2 separate regions of the Homo sapiens genome follow, and region 1 is linked to region 2. Evidence: fine-mapped expression QTL. Tissue or cell type: tibial artery. Region 2 holds a variant in brackets; the other region holds the start of a gene. All regions are shown on one strand. Distances are between the middles of the regions.

Evidence for each region. PIP is the estimated chance that this variant, and not a neighbour inherited with it, causes the effect.
Region 1: HDAC1 starts here. The variant in region 2 is fine-mapped to the expression of HDAC1 in tibial artery (GTEx, PIP 0.99). The same link has a PIP of 0.9 or more in testis and whole blood.

Annotation. Positions count from the first base shown.
Region 1 is chr1:32,288,505-32,296,586 of GRCh38, forward strand. It overlaps HDAC1 (histone deacetylase 1), which reads left to right and starts at 3,579. Exons shown (of 14, transcript NM_004964.3): 1 at 3,579-3,714. The coding sequence starts at 3,666. RefSeq lists a silencer at 3,293-3,702 and enhancers at 4,313-4,372, 4,444-5,018.
Region 2 is chr1:32,329,943-32,338,041 of GRCh38, forward strand. HDAC1 (histone deacetylase 1) reads left to right here. Exons shown (of 14, transcript NM_004964.3): 8 at 636-744; 9 at 826-966; 10 at 1,532-1,640; 11 at 1,734-1,864; 12 at 2,148-2,300; 13 at 2,759-2,807; 14 at 3,075-3,684. The coding sequence ends at 3,102. MARCKSL1 (MARCKS like 1) reads right to left here and starts at 6,291. Exons shown (of 2, transcript NM_023009.7): 1 at 6,005-6,291; 2 at 3,897-5,155. The coding sequence starts at 6,091. The coding sequence ends at 4,655. It overlaps LOC124903949 (a long non-coding RNA gene), which reads left to right and starts at 5,435. Exons shown (of 2, transcript XR_007065661.1): 1 at 5,435-5,562. RefSeq lists silencers at 142-342, 5,113-5,552, 5,693-5,772, 5,903-6,052, 6,073-6,602 and 1 more and enhancers at 5,944-6,513, 6,783-6,872. The variant T/C (reference allele first, on the strand shown) is at 3,660.

The DNA of each region.
Region 1 (8,082 bases), 41 kb before region 2:
GAGGATGGCAGAGTGTTTGATGAAAGATAGGGAAATGTTGGCCAGGCACCGTGGCTCACACCTGTAATCCCAGCAGTTTAGGAGGCCGGGGCAGGCGGATCACAAGGTCAGGAGTTCAAGATCAGCCTGGCCAACATAGTGAAACCCCGTCTCTACTAAAAATACAAAAAATTAGCCGGGAGTGGTGGCAGGTGCCTACAATCCCAGCTACTCGGAAGGCTGAATGGCGCGATCTCAGCTCATTGCAACCTCTGCCTCCCAGGTTCAAGCCATTCTTCTGCCTTAGCCTCCCTAGTAGCTGGGATTACAGGCGCCTGCCACCATGCCTAGCTAATTTTTATATTTTTAGTAGACGTGGGGTTTCGCCATGTTGGCCAGGCTGGTCTCAAACTCCTGACCTTGGGTGATCTGCCCGCCTCGGTCTCCCAAACTGCTGGGATTACAGGAGTGAGCCACAGTGCCCGGCCTCTAATTTTTATTTTTAATTTTTTTAATTTTTATTTTTTTAATTTTTATTTTATTTATTTTTTGTAATTTTTAAAATATACAAAAAAAGGGCCGGGTGTGGTGGCTCACGCCTGTAATCCCAGCACTTTTTGGGAGGCTGAGGTGGGTGGATCACGAGGTCAGGAGATCGAGACCATCCTGGCTAACATGGTGAAACCCTGTCTCTACTAAAAATATAAAAAAATTAGCCGGGCCTGGTGGCAGGTGCCTGTAGTCCCAGCTACTCGGGAGGCTGAGACAGGAGAATGGCGTGAACTCGAGAGGTGGAGCTTGCAGTGAGCCAAGATCGCACCACTACACTCCAGCCTGGGCGACAGAGTGAGACTTCATCTCAAAAAAAAAAAAAATTATATATATATATATACATATATATATGCAAACAAAGAGCATCTGAGTCATAATAATGTAAATCTATCACCTGACTGACCTGCTGCCACACCTCATGATCTCATCTGATCCCCACACTCCTTCTCTTTGGGATACTGTGTACAGCCATAGCGTGGGTGAACTTTGTATTCCTATCCTCCCCATTTTTGTTATTTTATTTTATTTCTTATTTATTTGAGACAGAGTCTCACTCTGTCATCCAGACTGTAATGCAGTGGCCTGATCTCGGCTCACTGCAACCTCCACCTCCCGGTTTCAAGCGAATCTCCTGCCTCAGCCTCCTAAGTAGCTGGGACCTACAGGCACACACCACCACGCCCAGCTAATTTTTGCATTTTTAATAGAGACGGGGTTTCACCGTGCTGGGCAGGCTGGTCTCGAACTCCTGACCTCAGGTGATTTGCCCACCTCAGCCTTCCAAATTGTTAGGATTACAGGCATGAGTCACTGTGCCCGGCCTCCTCCCCATTTTATAACAAGGGAAATGGAGGCCCAGAATGGTTAAGTAAACCCACCCAGGGCTAGCTGAGAATTAGCAACAGAGAACTGGGAGTAGAATTTGTTCCCTGGCCCTTTGCTGTTTCTATTATAAGCCACCCAGTCTTAGATTTTCTGTTACCTTATAATTAATGACTCAAATGCAGTTTCTGAGTGAGAAACACAAGTCCCAAACACTCTTTAAAGAGGCATAAAGATGTATCTTGTTGTTTTCTTTTGTTTGAGACAAGGCCTGGCTCTATTGCCCAGGCTGGAGTGTGGTGACATGATCTTGGCTCACTGCAACATCTGTCTCCTGGGCTCAAGCCATCATCCCACCTCAGCCTCCTGAGTAGCTGGAACTACAGGAGCGCGCCCCCACACCTGGGTAATTTTTCTATTTTTTGTAGAGATGGGGTTTTGCCATGTTGCCCAGGCTGGTCTCGAACTCCTGAGCTCAAGTGATCCACCCATCTTGGCCTCCCAAAGTGCTGGGATTACAGGCGTGAGCCACTGTGCCCAGCCTCTTGTTGACTGTAGGACCACAAGTTGGCGGCTAACTTAGAGCAATGTTTGGCACACAGGAAGCACTCATTAAATATTGACATTATTGTAGTTATTTTAATAGCCCAGCATTGCACTTTTAGGTCTTTCAGCTTTCAGTGATGATCAGTTGATAATTGATGATCTGGTGGAGTGGTTCTTAATGGTAGAGTTGGGGGCAATTTTACACTCCCTTACACCCCACTAATCTTCCCCCCAACCCAATGGTAAAGCTATTGCACAGTACTTGGCAATGTCTAGAGACAATTTTGGTTGTCACAGCCTGGGGGGAAGGTGCTACTGGCATCTAGTGGGTAGAGGCTAAGGATGCTGCTTAATTTTTTTTTTTTTTGAGACAAGAGTTTCACTCTAGTTGCCCAGGCACAGAACAGCTTCACAGAAGCTGTTAATGCACAGAATAGCTTCCTACAAAAAAGCATTACCTGGCCCAAAATGTCATTAGCTACCAGGCTGAGAAACCTGCCCTCCTAGGCCGGGCGCTGTGGCTCACGCCCGTAATCTCAGCATATTGGGAGGCCGAGGTGGGCGGATCCTGAGGTCAGGAGTTCGAGACCACCTGGACCAACACGGAGAAACCCAGTCTCTACCAAAAATACAAAATTAGCCGGGCATGGTGGCACATGCTTGTAATCCCAGCTACTCGGGAGGCTGAGGCAGGAGAACCGCTTGAACACAGAGGCAGAGATTGTGGTGAGCCGAGATCACACCATTGCACTCCAGCCTGGGCAACTAGAGCGAAACTCTTGTCTCAAAAAAAAAAAAAAAAAAAAAAACAGGGAAAGAAAAGAAAGGAAACCTGCCCTCCTATCATAGGATAATCCCATTTCCTCCTGTCTAAAGAGACGCCTACTTAGTCATCCTGGGTGACTGCATCAGGGAGGTAGATTTTGGAGTCTGAAAGGCTGGGTTCTGTCACTTTGTTACAGTGCCTCTGGTGCAAAGAAAGCATTTTAAAAACCCTGTACAATTAAAAAATTGAATTTAATTACTTTGTGTAACTTTGAATAATTCACAGAAGTCTGAACTTCTTTATCCTGTCCTGTAAAATGGAGGTAAAAAGCCCTTGGCCGAGAGCTGTTTTGAGGAAAAACTGAAATAACATTGGTAAAGTGTCGCACAGTACTTGGCACACAGCAGCCCCTCGACAAACATTAGCTTTCTTTCCCTTTCTTGTCGGTTTCTTCCTCTCCAAACCCGCGTGTTGCTTTTCTTTTTAATTATTTTTCTGTAGCCCTCCTTTGCGGCCACAAACTCGCTTTCTAACCCAGGTTCAGCCCTTTTATTGGCTGAGTGACCTTGTGCAAGTCACTTTTCCCCTGTAGGCCTCGGTTTATTCTCCGTAAAATCAGAAAGTTGGCCTCCGATCTCCAAGCACGCTTTTCACGACGAAGTGGGACTGTTAAGTTTACAGAGCTGCTTTCCTCCCCCGGGACTGATGGTACGGTCCCCGGGCGGCTCCCCACCCATCTGTCGCAGACCTTGGTACAGGCCCAGGGGGCCCTCGGCGGCCTCTCCGGGCTGCCCTTGCCCCCTGCCGAGTTCCGGGCCCGTGTCTGCGCAAGCTGATTGGCTGGAGCGGTGCCCGGGCTGCGCGGCTATAGGTGAGCCCAGGAGGGGACGGGCGGGGCGGGCCGGAGGCCCGCCCCCTCCCCCCTGGGTCGGACGCTGAGCGGAGCCGCGGGCGGGAGGGCGGACGGACCGACTGACGGTAGGGACGGGAGGCGAGCAAGATGGCGCAGACGCAGGGCACCCGGAGGAAAGTCTGTTACTACTACGACGGTGAGCACCGTCCTCGCGGCGGGGGCGGGGCCAGGCCGGGCCGGACCGGGAACCTGGAGGCTGAGGCTGGAGCGCCGATGGGAGGCTGCGGGAGGCTGAGGCGCTGGGGAGAGGCTCGGAGAGGAGGCTGCGAGGGGGAAGTCGAGGCTGAGGGAGGAGGCTGCGAGGAAGGGAGATCGAGGCTGAGACCAAGAGGGGATCGCGTGGGGGAAGCGTGAGGTAATCTTGATGGGAAGATTCTGAGGAAGTCTGATGTGGAGAGTTTGAGTGGGACTCCTAGAGGGGAGGGTGCGTCGGAGCGGGGAGGCTGAATCTGATGGAGACGGCTGCAAGGATACATTTTCTTGCCGAGAACCCAAAGCTCTTCCCTGCCCCGTCCCTTCCTCATCTTTTCTGGGGGAAGAGTCCTGCACGACTGGTTGCCCGCCTCCCCTCCCCCAGCCTCTGAGCGGGGCCTGCGGTTGCTACTGCGACGTGGGGCGCCAGGGGTTGCAAGGAGAAGGATGCAACCTGTTAAAACAGACTTCTCACTTAATCTCTCAAGCAGGTTACTGTGTTCGAGGAAGTGTTGAGGGGCTGGGGCCGTGGGGTTGATCGGGTCACCCTTCCCAGTGACCGAAGTTCTCTCCGTGTCAGAGCTCAGAGTGTTAGGGGAGCACAGAGAAGAGGCACCGAACTCCACCTGAGGAGTCAGCGAAGGAGGGGACATCTTAGTTAGGACCTGAAGAACAGGAGTTCTTAGCCAGGCACAGGGAAGGCAAAGATAACAGCAAGTTTCAGAGGCAAGAGAGAGGACAGGACCTTTGAAAAACAGGCATTTGGCCGGGCGTGGTGGCTCACGCCTGTAATCCCAGCACTTTGGGAGGCCGAGGCTGGTGGATCACCTGAGGTCAGGAGTTCGAGACCAGCCTGGCCAACATGGTGAAACCCCGTCTCTACTAAAAATACAAAATTAGCCGCGCATGGTGGTGTGCGCCTGTAATCCCAGCTACTCTGGAGCCTAAGGCAGGAGAATCCCTTAGAACCCGGGAGGCAGAGGTTGCAGTGAGCTGAGATCGTGCCACTGCACTCCAGCTTGGACAACAGAGCGAGGCTCTGTCTTAAAAAAAAAAAAAAAAAAAGATGTAAATAGGGACCGGACCATGAAGGGCTGGGCATGCTGTCCCAAGGAAGTTGGACTTTATTGAGGGCACTTGTGAGTGATTCAAGTTTTATGCAGGTTATTGACATCATCAGGTTTATACCTTAGAAATTAAAGTAATGGGGGCCAGGTGCAGTGGCTCACACCTCTCTAATCCCAGTACTTTGGGAGGCTGAGGCAGGCAGATCACTCGGGGCCAGGAGTTCAGGACCAGCCTGGCCAACACGGTGAAACCCCATCTCTACTAAAAATACAAAATTTAGGCTGGGCACGGTGGCTCACGCCTGTAATCCCGGCACTTTGGGAGGCTGAGGCGGGCGGATCATGAGGTCAGGAGTTCAAGACCAGCCTGACCAACATGGTGAAACCCTGTCTCTACTAAAAATACAAAAATTACCCGGGTGTGGTGGTGCGCACCTGTAATCCCAGCTACTCAGGAGGCTGAGGCAGGAGAGTCGCTTGAACCCAGGAGGCAGAGGTTGCAGTGAGCCAAGATTGCACCGCTGCACTCCAGCCTGGGCAACAGGGTGAGACTCCATCTCAAAAAAAAAAAAAAAAATTAGCGAGGTGTGGTGGCACATGCCTGTAGTCCCAGCTACTCAGGAGGCTGAGGTGCGAGAGTTGTTTGAACCTGGGAGGCAGAGGTTGCAGTGGGCTGAGATCTCACCACTGCACTCCGTCCTGGGCAACAGAGCGAGACTTCGTCTCAAAAAAAAAAAAAACAAAAAAATTCAGATTGTAGGGGTAAGGAAGAAGGCATGGATCCCAAGTTCCTGGTGTGGGCAGTATTTTTTATTTTTTGAGATGATGTCTAGCTCTGTCACCCAGGCTGGAGTGCAGTGGCTTGATCTCGGCTCACTGCAACTGCAACCTCCACCTCCCAGATTCAAGGGATTCTCCTGCCTCAGCCTCCTGAGTAGCTGGGATTACAGGCGTGCGCCACCATGCCTGGCTAGTTTTTGTATTTTTATTAGAGATGGGGTTTCACGATGTTGGCCAGGCTGGTCTCAAACTGACCTCCAGTGCTCCATCTGCCTCAGCCTCCCAAAGTGCTGGGATTATAGGCATGAGCCACACTTCCTGGCCTCTGATGTGGGCAATTTGATGGTGAGTGTTTGGAGGTTTGGAGAATGCCATGTCAGTTGATAACTTTTTTTTTTTTTTTTTTTTGAGATGGAGTCTCGCTCTGTCGCCCAGGCTGGAGTGCAGTGGCGCAATCTCGGCTCACTGCTGCAAGCTCCACCTCCCGGGTCCATGCCATTCTCCTGCCTCAGCCTCTCCAGTAGCTGGGACTACAGGCGCCCGCCACCACACTGGGCTGATTTTTTGTATTTTTAGTAGAGACAGGGTTTCACCGTGTTAGCCAGGATGGTCTGGATCTCCTGACCTCATGATCCGCCCGCCTCGGCCTCCCAAAGTGCTGGGATTACAGGTGTGAGCCACCGCACCCGGCCCCAACTTTTTTTTTTTTTTTTTAAACTTCTAGAGATGGGGTCTCAATATGTTGCCTGGGCTTGTCTTGAACTCCTGTGCCTGGCCTCAAGCAATCCTGCCACCTTGGCCTCCCAAAGTGCTGGGATTACAGGCCTAAGCCACTGTTTTTTTTGTTGTTGTTGTTTGTTTGTTTAGAAATAACTATTGATAACTGTTAAGATGTTTAGGGGACATCCAAGTAGAGGCATCCAGTAGGCAGTTTAGAAGATAGAAATTTTTTGGTAGTCATCAGTATCTTAGTCTGCTATAACAGAACACTGTTTATAAAGAACAGAAATTGCTGAATGTGGTGGCTCACGCCTATAATCCCAGTACTTTGGTAGGCTGGGGCGGATGGTTCTCTTGAGCCCAGGAGTTTGAGACCAGCCTGGGCAACTTAGGGAGACTCTGTCTCTACAAAAAGTAAAAAAATTAGCTGGGCATGATGGCATGTGCCTGTAGAGAGGCTGAAGTGGGAGGATCACTTGATCCTGGGAGGTCGACTCTGCAGTGAGCCATGATCGCACCAGTGCACTCCAGCCTGGGGGACAGAGTGAGACCTTGTGTCAAAAAAAAAAAAAGAACATAAATGTATTTCTCATAGTTCTGGAGGCTGAGAAGTCCAAGGCTAGAAAGTCCAAGATCAGGGTGCCAGCATTTGGTGTCTGGTGAGGGTCTGGTCTCTACTTCCAATATGGTGCTTTGAATTCAGTGTTTTCATATGACAGAAGGTGGAAAGGCAAAAAAGGATAAACTCTGTTTTTTTATATGGCCATTAATGTATTAGTGAGGATGGTAGAGCCCTTGAGACCTAAACACCTCCCAAAAGGCTCCACTTCCAAACACTGTTGGCATTGGGGAATATGTTTCCAACACATGAATTTTGGGGGACACATTCAGACCATAACAATCAGCATATGGATAGTTATTTTATTTGTTTGTTTGTTTGTTTGTTTGTTGTAGAGATGTTGTCTTGCCATGTTGTCCAGGCTGGCCTTGAAGTCCTGGGCTCAGCCTCCCAAAGTGTTGGGATTATAGGCATGACCCACCATTCCTGGCTGCTAGCAATTTTAATTGTAGTAAATTTAGTCATAAAGGATGCAGTCACCCAATAAGTTATATAGAATTCCAGGGTGGAATTCTAAGGAAGTGGATTGAGGAAAAGTTTAGTGCCCCTCATGCTGTGTACTCCCCCGTGATAGTATTTGTCACTGTGTAGAGGAATTGCCCATTTACTTGGTCATATTTCTTGTAGAGAGGAGGCTCTTTAGGGAAAGGGGCCGTGCCTTGTCTACCTCTGTATCCCCAGCACCAAAAACAATGCCTAGCTCATGGTAGGTTCTCAATAAATATTTGTTGATTAAATGTATAATGATAGAGAGTGAGGGGCCGGAGAGGTAGGTGAACCAGAAAGTACTGGGTTGCAGAAGCTAAAGAAGGGAGGGATTGGGCAAGTGTTGGCGGCAACTGGGGCAGAAGCTAGATTGTGGTAGATTGCAGTACATGGATGGCTAACTGAAGAGGAGACATCAGGTTGAACCCTTTTTTTGGAGACAGGGCCTCACTCTGTCACTCAGGCTGGAGTGCAGTGGCATGATCCTGGCTCACTACCACCTCTGCCTCCCAGGCTCAAGCAGTCCTCCCACCTCAGCCTTCCAAGTAGCTGGAACCACAGGTGTGCACCCTTTTTGTATTTTTTGTTTAGAAGACAAACGGTTGTCTTTTGTTTAGAGACAGGATTTCGCCATGTTGCC
Region 2 (8,099 bases):
AGTGCTGAAGGAGGCGGTGGGAAGTGTATGCTGGGCTCAGTATTTCAAAGGGAGCCTTGAATGCCATGCCAAGGAGTTAAATCTTCACTTATAAACAGTAAGAAACTGCTTAACCTAATAAGGTCAGGTAGTCATTCAGCAAACACTGACTGCCCACTATGTGCCTAGTATTTAATAAGGGCTACAGAAGTGGGAGTTGTGGTCTCGGTCTCAGTAACGTTAGACTCTGCTTGTGAGAATAAGATAAACTAAAAGTGCTTGCTCATAATGTAAGGCTTCAAGTCTGTAAGACCGAATGAGTAGAGTAGATGCAGCTAAAGGTCAGGAAGGCTTCCTGGAGGAAGTGGCACTAGAGCTTGGGCAACAGAAGAGACTTAGGGAGTTGAGAGGGAGGCCATTCTAGGTTCAGTGTTACTAGAGTGTTAGAAGGGTCTTAGAGAACTTTTTAAATTGGAAAATTGAAATCCCAAGTGGGCAAGCAAGGGCTCCAGCCTAGCACTCCCTTTTCTCTCCCACATAGCATGAGGGAGAGTGGAAAGGTAGGAGTGGGTGGGAAAGTGTTGCACCCAGCCTTTCCACTCCAAACCTCGTATTGCTTTCTTGAGGTTGGTGGTGACCAGGATGTATCATTTTAGGTCATGTCCAAAGTAATGGAGATGTTCCAGCCTAGTGCGGTGGTCTTACAGTGTGGCTCAGACTCCCTATCTGGGGATCGGTTAGGTTGCTTCAATCTAACTATCAAAGGTGAGACCAGGTAGCACAAGGATGGGTGGGCGGGGTCCTGCTTGGTGCTCCTGTAACTCAGCACCCCTTCTCCCACCAAAGGACACGCCAAGTGTGTGGAATTTGTCAAGAGCTTTAACCTGCCTATGCTGATGCTGGGAGGCGGTGGTTACACCATTCGTAACGTTGCCCGGTGCTGGACATATGAGACAGCTGTGGCCCTGGATACGGAGATCCCTAATGGTAATAGCTGCAGGGCCAGGTTCGGCTGGGCTGGGTGGGAGCTGGAGCTCATCTGTCCTTAAGTTTATAACCCCTTCCCCGTTGGTCATATGACCGCTCCTCTTCTGATACTAGTCACTGAGTCTCCTGCCTGTCCTCTTGTGATCAGCAGACCATAACCATCACTTTTTCCCTAGTCCTTTTTAGCTCTCTCCCCTCTCCCTCCTGCTTTTGGTCTGGACAAAGTTCTCATTGGTAATTTACAGCTTTGGAATTTCTACTCTGTAGAGTAACTGGAGTAGCGAGTGAAGGGAGCGCTCATAATGAGCATGGCCTCAAGTGTCCTAAACCAGGGACATGGGCCTTCTCCTAGCGACATATACACCACTGGTACAGACATAGGAGAGTGATGTTAAAAAGATGGAAATCCCATAGGTACCCGTGTCTCACAGTGTCTTGGAGGCATTCTCCTCTGTTTGGATAAATAGGCCCAGAGAAACCTACAAATGCTTTAGGGTGCTTACGTGCAAATGGTTAGGGTGCGGTGGCCAGGTCTCTTGACGGTCTTCTCTCCTGCCCCAATCAGAGCTTCCATACAATGACTACTTTGAATACTTTGGACCAGATTTCAAGCTCCACATCAGTCCTTCCAATATGACTAACCAGAACACGAATGAGTACCTGGAGAAGATCAAGTGAGTATATCCTCCAGCCACCCCTTGGTTGAACATTCCTGACTTTGGTTTGTCCCTGACCAGAGCCCTGCTACTCTCTCCCATTGGCCACAGACAGCGACTGTTTGAGAACCTTAGAATGCTGCCGCACGCACCTGGGGTCCAAATGCAGGCGATTCCTGAGGACGCCATCCCTGAGGAGAGTGGCGATGAGGACGAAGACGACCCTGACAAGCGCATCTCGAGTGAGACCCAGACCTAGAGCCCTATGCCTTCCATTCAATAGGCAGCTCACACTTCCACCACCATTCCTGGCTGCACACTCCCTCCAAGCTCCCCACCTGTAGAGAAATCTGTTTTCGAGTTCCAGTGCCTGTAGGAACAGGTTAGGGAGCCCGAGTTCCTCCCTCTTCTGGTTCCCTTTCCCTTGGTGTCTCTTGGAGGACACGCAGGGAAGCACTGGGCATAGATGCTGAGCTAAATCAGCACCCGCCTGCCCTCTCACCCATGCTTCCCACTCCCTCCCAGTCTGCTCCTCTGACAAACGAATTGCCTGTGAGGAAGAGTTCTCCGATTCTGAAGAGGAGGGAGAGGGGGGCCGCAAGAACTCTTCCAACTTCAAAAAAGCCAAGAGAGTCAAAACAGAGGATGAAAAAGAGAAAGACCCAGAGGAGAAGAAAGGTGGGTTTGGGTTCAGCTGGGACTTGGGTCTCGAGCCTGAGAGGATGAATCTATGTAGGGCAGTGGGAGGAGGGAGTGACTCAGGCCCTGCCAGCTCCTGTGGGGCTCTTCCTCAGTTCCTTGAGCCTTTCAGTGGCTCCCAGAAGTGGCAGAGCCCACAAAACAATGAACCTCTACTGCCTGAGCACGGCTCTCACATACCACCCCAGCCCTTTTCCCAGCACTGCACCCCAGTTTCCCAGGGGGCTGCCTCCGCCCACCAGGTTCTGGCTGTAGCAGGCTGGGAAACCAGTCCAACCTGTTCTCAACAGGGCTCACTGGGAGGACCAGGGATGGGCTTTTCTCTCTTTATGTCCAGTGAGCTGTAGTGTTGGGGAAGGGGTCTCAGGGTAAATGAAGACCTCATGGGTCTTCCCAGAGGTGCTGCCCTTGGCCATCCCTGTACTCTTGTGTTCTAGAAGTCACCGAAGAGGAGAAAACCAAGGAGGAGAAGCCAGAAGCCAAAGGGTGAGGAAGGAGCTGCCTGTGGCCATCTCCCTGGCATTGGAGCACCAGCCCCTTTGTCCCACCACTCTGAGGAAAGGCACAGGGACAGCTGGTCCAGCTTACAAAGGCCTCTTTCAGGGACCAGTCTGTCCAGCTCTGCAGTTCTAGGCAGAGCTAGGAGCCCCAGCCCCCAGTAGTCACCTAGGATCCTGTGGAAGTCACTGTCTGCACTTTTGCCCTGAGGCTCTGGGCTGGGTCATCTCATGCCAGTCTCTGCTCTCTCCACAGGGTCAAGGAGGAGGTCAAGTTGGCCTGAATGGACCTCTCCAGCTCTGGCTTCCTGCTGAGTCCCTCACGTTTCTTCCCCAACCCCTCAGATTTTATATTTTCTATTTCTCTGTGTATTTATATAAAAATTTATTAAATATAAATATCCCCAGGGACAGAAACCAAGGCCCCGAGCTCAGGGCAGCTGTGCTGGGTGAGCTCTTCCAGGAGCCACCTTGCCACCCATTCTTCCCGTTCTTAACTTTGAACCATAAAGGGTGCCAGGTCTGGGTGAAAGGGATACTTTTATGCAACCATAAGACAAACTCCTGAAATGCCAAGTGCCTGCTTAGTAGCTTTGGAAAGGTGCCCTTATTGAACATTCTAGAAGGGGTGGCTGGGTCTTCAAGGATCTCCTGTTTTTTTCAGGCTCCTAAAGTAACATCAGCCATTTTTAGATTGGTTCTGTTTTCGTACCTTCCCACTGGCCTCAAGTGAGCCAAGAAACACTGCCTGCCCTCTGTCTGTCTTCTCCTAATTCTGCAGGTGGAGGTTGCTAGTCTAGTTTCCTTTTTGAGATACTATTTTCATTTTTGTGAGCCTCTT[T/C]GTAATAAAATGGTACATTTCTATATCCTCCTGAGCTTGTTTCCTATGTGTCCCTGGGTTGGTTTCAACTCTACTTCCCTGCCGTTCTGGTGTCCATGAGTATTGGGGCAACCCCCTGAACAAGAAAACCCCATAAACTTACCTGCCTGCCTTAACTCCTCCCTTGAGGTTTGAGGTAAACTACTTTCCACCAATCTTCTCACCCTACCCCCAGAAGACCACTCATTAAAGCACCACTAAAGGGACGACATTTATTCCTTTTCCAAATGTTACAGTAAAACCAGGTGGAAGAGAATGGTTTTAGCAGTTAGAAAAAAAAAAAAAGTACAAATCTGGGGTTTGGCCATTAAAAGTTATTTACAACAGTGGGAGAAAAAAAGACAAGAAGTTGTTTCACATTACAGACCTCCCCCCACCCCAAAGCCTAATACTTGCTTACCAAGTCAAAAAAGAGACACAGTTGATTCACAGGCTGGAGGTTTGAACTTGAGTAAGACATTTATAAAAACCTAGACGGGGCAGTGTCCTCCCCAGCCCAGGTGCCACTAGGCACAGCACAAGAGACTAAAAACAACAGGGGAAGGCTGGACACTCAAGGTTTGGGAGTATAAGCACCCCACTTCTGGCTCAGGGATTTGGGGAGTAGGGTAAACAAAACCTACTTGGAAAAGAATTGGGGAAGAAAACCAACAACTGCCTTATGCAGGGGTGGGGACAGGGAAGGAGGTAGGGCCAGGGACAGGAGCATTTCACATCACTAACCTAACTTGGGAAGCTGTAAGGGACCATCTTCAACTGGCCTTAAGAGGAGAACCAGATGGCTGATGGGAGAATCCACAGGAGGGAGAGGAGGAAAGGGAACGTGGCTGGGAGGAGGCAATAGCCCCTTCCTTTCTGGGCACAGGAAGGCAGCCAGGGCACCAGGTCCAGGCAGTGACCTCACAAGGACAGCACAGTTTTTGCAGCTTAGAGATCACCCACCTGCCCCTACCTAGCTACTCATTCTGCTCAGCGCTGGCTGGTGTAGGGCCACTCTCCGGCCCCGAGGGAGTGGATGGCTCTGTAGCCTGGGGCCCTGCCTCTTCTTCTGAGGCTGCACTAGCCTCTGCCCCCTTGGCCTGGGGTTCCTGGCTCTCAGGGGTGGCTGCGGCCTTCCCTTCCTGAGCAGTGCCCTCGTCGCTGCAGGCACCGATCTCCCCCTGCTCCTGCTCTTCCTCTGTGGGTGAGGAGGCAGAAGAATCACCCCCACCCTCCTTCCGATTTCTCTTGAAGGACAGGCCGCTCAATTTGAAAGGCTTCTTGAAAGAGAATTTCTTCTTCTTCTTGGGGGTCTCCTTGGGGGGGACCTCCCCCTTGGCCTCAGCACCCTGGCTAGGGGGTGCTGGCTCGATGGCATCGCCAGTGGCCCCGGCTGCCTCATCTGTTCCGTTCACAGGGGGCGACTCCCCTTCACCCTTGGGGGATAAGTCTCCATTGCTTTTCACGTGGCCATTCTCCTGCAGGGCAGAGGGAATAGCAATGAGGGCAGGGGCTCCCCCTCCCCCAGCCCGCTTCTGATCCCTTCTAGAGGAAGGGGTCCTCGATTCGATTCTACTGCAACCCGAAAGTCTGGCTTCAGCCTCACCCACACCCAGGATCCCGTCAAACACCTCCCTCTCGCCCCTCACGGGCGCGCGGGGAGCGAGCGCGCAGAGGGCGCGACCGGCAGGAGGCGCTGGGGTCCCGTGGCCCCCACCCCCGTCCCCCGGGGCGCGCTCTCTATTCCGCGCGGAACCGCTCCGGATCTGCTGTGCGGATCCCGGGCAGGCGGGCGAGCCGCTCTAGGCGACATTGGGCGGGAAGCCGCCCCGGGGCGCTGTCTCTCTGCACCTGGACGGCCTATTTTCCCAGCCTCCCGCTTTGTGTAAGTGGCCCCCACCCACCCCAGGCTCTCCCGCATCTCGGCTCCCCCTTAAAAAAAAAAAGACCGTGGGCCACCGAGGTCGGGTCGGCGGGTGGAGTGCGCTCCCCGCCGGGCCCCAGCTCCGCGGCCCCTGGGCGCCCCCTTGGCGTGGCCCAGCAGCGCCTTTGTTCCCCGCGCGGCACTCGGGGCGGCCGGGGGGCAGCGCCGGGGACCGGGGCCGCGAACAAAGAAGGCGGCAGGGCCCGGCCGGCGCCCCCTCCCCGCCCCTCCCCTCGCTTCGCCCGCGGGGGCTGCGGCGCCGAGAACAAAGGGACCGGGCGGGGGAGGGGGCGCCGCGTGTCCCGGGCCGGACAAAGCGCGCGGCCCCGGCCCCGGCCCCGGGCCCTAGAAGGGGCGAGGTGCGAGAGGAGGGGCTGGGGCCGGCCGGGCCAAGCGTACCCACCTGGCCGTTGGCCTTCGCGGGGGAAGCGCCTGCTGCCTCCTCGGCGGTCACGTCGCCCCGGGGAGCCTTGGAGCTCTGGCTGCCCATGATGGGGGTCTGCTGGGGGGCGCTTGGAGCCGCCCCGGGCTCGCGCCGCAGGGGATAGTACGGCGGGGTCGGCCCGGCCGGCGGAGGGGTGGGGCTGGCGCCCGAGGGGGAGGGGTGCCGGGGGAAGCCGAGCTGCACCTCCGCTCCGCGGCCGACCCGCTAGCTGCGCCCGCCGCCGCTCCGCTCCGCGCCAGAATGCCGCCCGCCGCCCGCCGAGCTGCCTATATATAAGCGCCCGGAGCTCGGGGCGGGGCCGGACATTTAAATGCGCGCCCAATCGAGGGGCGGAGGCGGGGTTGGCTCGCAGGCCCCACTTGCGCAGCAGGCGACGCTGGCGGTCGGGTACCCCCCACCCCACCCGAATCCCAGGGGCAGGTAGAGTCCGGTGTGGGCAGGAGCGAGGCCAGTCCTCCCGCGAGCTGGGCGGGGCGGGGCGGGGGGCCTGGAGGAAGGAGACGGGCAGTCATTCCATCCTCTCCGCTCCACCTCTCCGGTGGGCGCCCCCGCAGCCTGGAGCGGCCCCCAACGCCTTGGTCCTGCAGCCGCTGGCAGTCTCCCGCTTGAACCCTTCGAAGGGCTCACACGACCAGGCTCGTCAGATGGCTGGTCCTGAATTATACTCTAGAAATGTGGTCATAGAAGCTGCAGGGCCCCTGCGCTGGGCTCGGCACCCGCTCCGGCCTGGAGAGCGGTCAGAGGTCCCACCCACGTCCCTGCCTGCCTGCCATGGCCAGCCGGGGAGCGGAGGGCTCTGCCTTGCCTCGGGGTCACTCTGGTCGGACTAGTGAGGCCTTTCCCTCATTCCTCCTTTCAGTCCCTTGGTGGCCAGTCATTCTGAGTGGGGACAGACAGATTCGCCTTGAGCCCCTCCTGCCCTCAGCCTGGACCCACTGCAAAGTCCCACGTGGGGGACTTTGTGACCTTGAAGGGCATCTCCATCCCCATTGAAAGGCCAAGGCTCAGAGGCATTGACAACCTGTCTGACTTGGCTCTGGTCCTTCCTCTTTACCTCCACACACAACTCTGCTCCCCTACATCAGGGTGCCCCAGGCCGGCAGAGGAACCCCAGCTGGGGACTCAACAAACCTCAAAACACCCCAGTTTCTGAAGGGGAGGGATAGGATGCTACCAAGGGTCCCTTCAAGGGACAGCCCCTTGAGGACAGCCCTCAAAGCTGCCCAGCCCAGCTTCCCACCCTGCCTGAGAGCAAGGGAGCCCGGAGGTGCTCCGGGCTGGAGACTCCCTAGCTTTGGTCCTCTGCCACCTCTCCTTCTGCTGGCCTGGATAGGCTGGTGGGAACCCCAGAATCCTGGCCGGCCCCGGATGTCTGTGTCCGGCTGCCAGCCCTCAGCCCCCAGGAGGAAAGGGATGGGGGCTGGAAGGAAGCAAAGTGTTGCAAATGCAAGGCTGTGTCCCAGCCAGCTCAGCAAGTCCCTCCCCTCCCTCCTACGGTGAAGCCTCCTGGGAGGCCTGAGGCTGTGAAGTGTGGAGACACCCCAGGGCCTGAGAAATTGGGAACTCCCCAGAGATCTGACCACAGAGGGGCGGGGAGGGCTGAGGTGGCTTCTGCATTCTGCACTCACTCCTGTATCCTCCATCCCCACCCCCACCCTGAGACTACAGAATACCCTCAGCTATCTCAGCTTCACTTGCCCCCCACCCCCGCCCCATTTCACAGACTGGGACCCTGAGGTTCAGGAAGAGAAAGTGACATGCCCAAGGGCACACAGCAGCTACCAGTAGCTGAGGGTGAGAAAAGGCTTGGAGAGGTTTGATAACATGGGCCAAGGGCTGTAAGGAATCCCCTGGCAGAATTTTCTGTTGAGATCTGGGGCTGCCTGGTCAGAGTGGGAGGCAAGGGCTAGCTTTGGGACGGGGAGAGGCACTGTGCCCCCACTGCAGCTCACTGAAAGTACCGTGACTTCTCCACAGCTTGCCACTAAGGGAAGGATGTCATGACCTGCTCTCTGTCTCAGCCACAATAGGGAACCCACAATGCTGCCAGGCG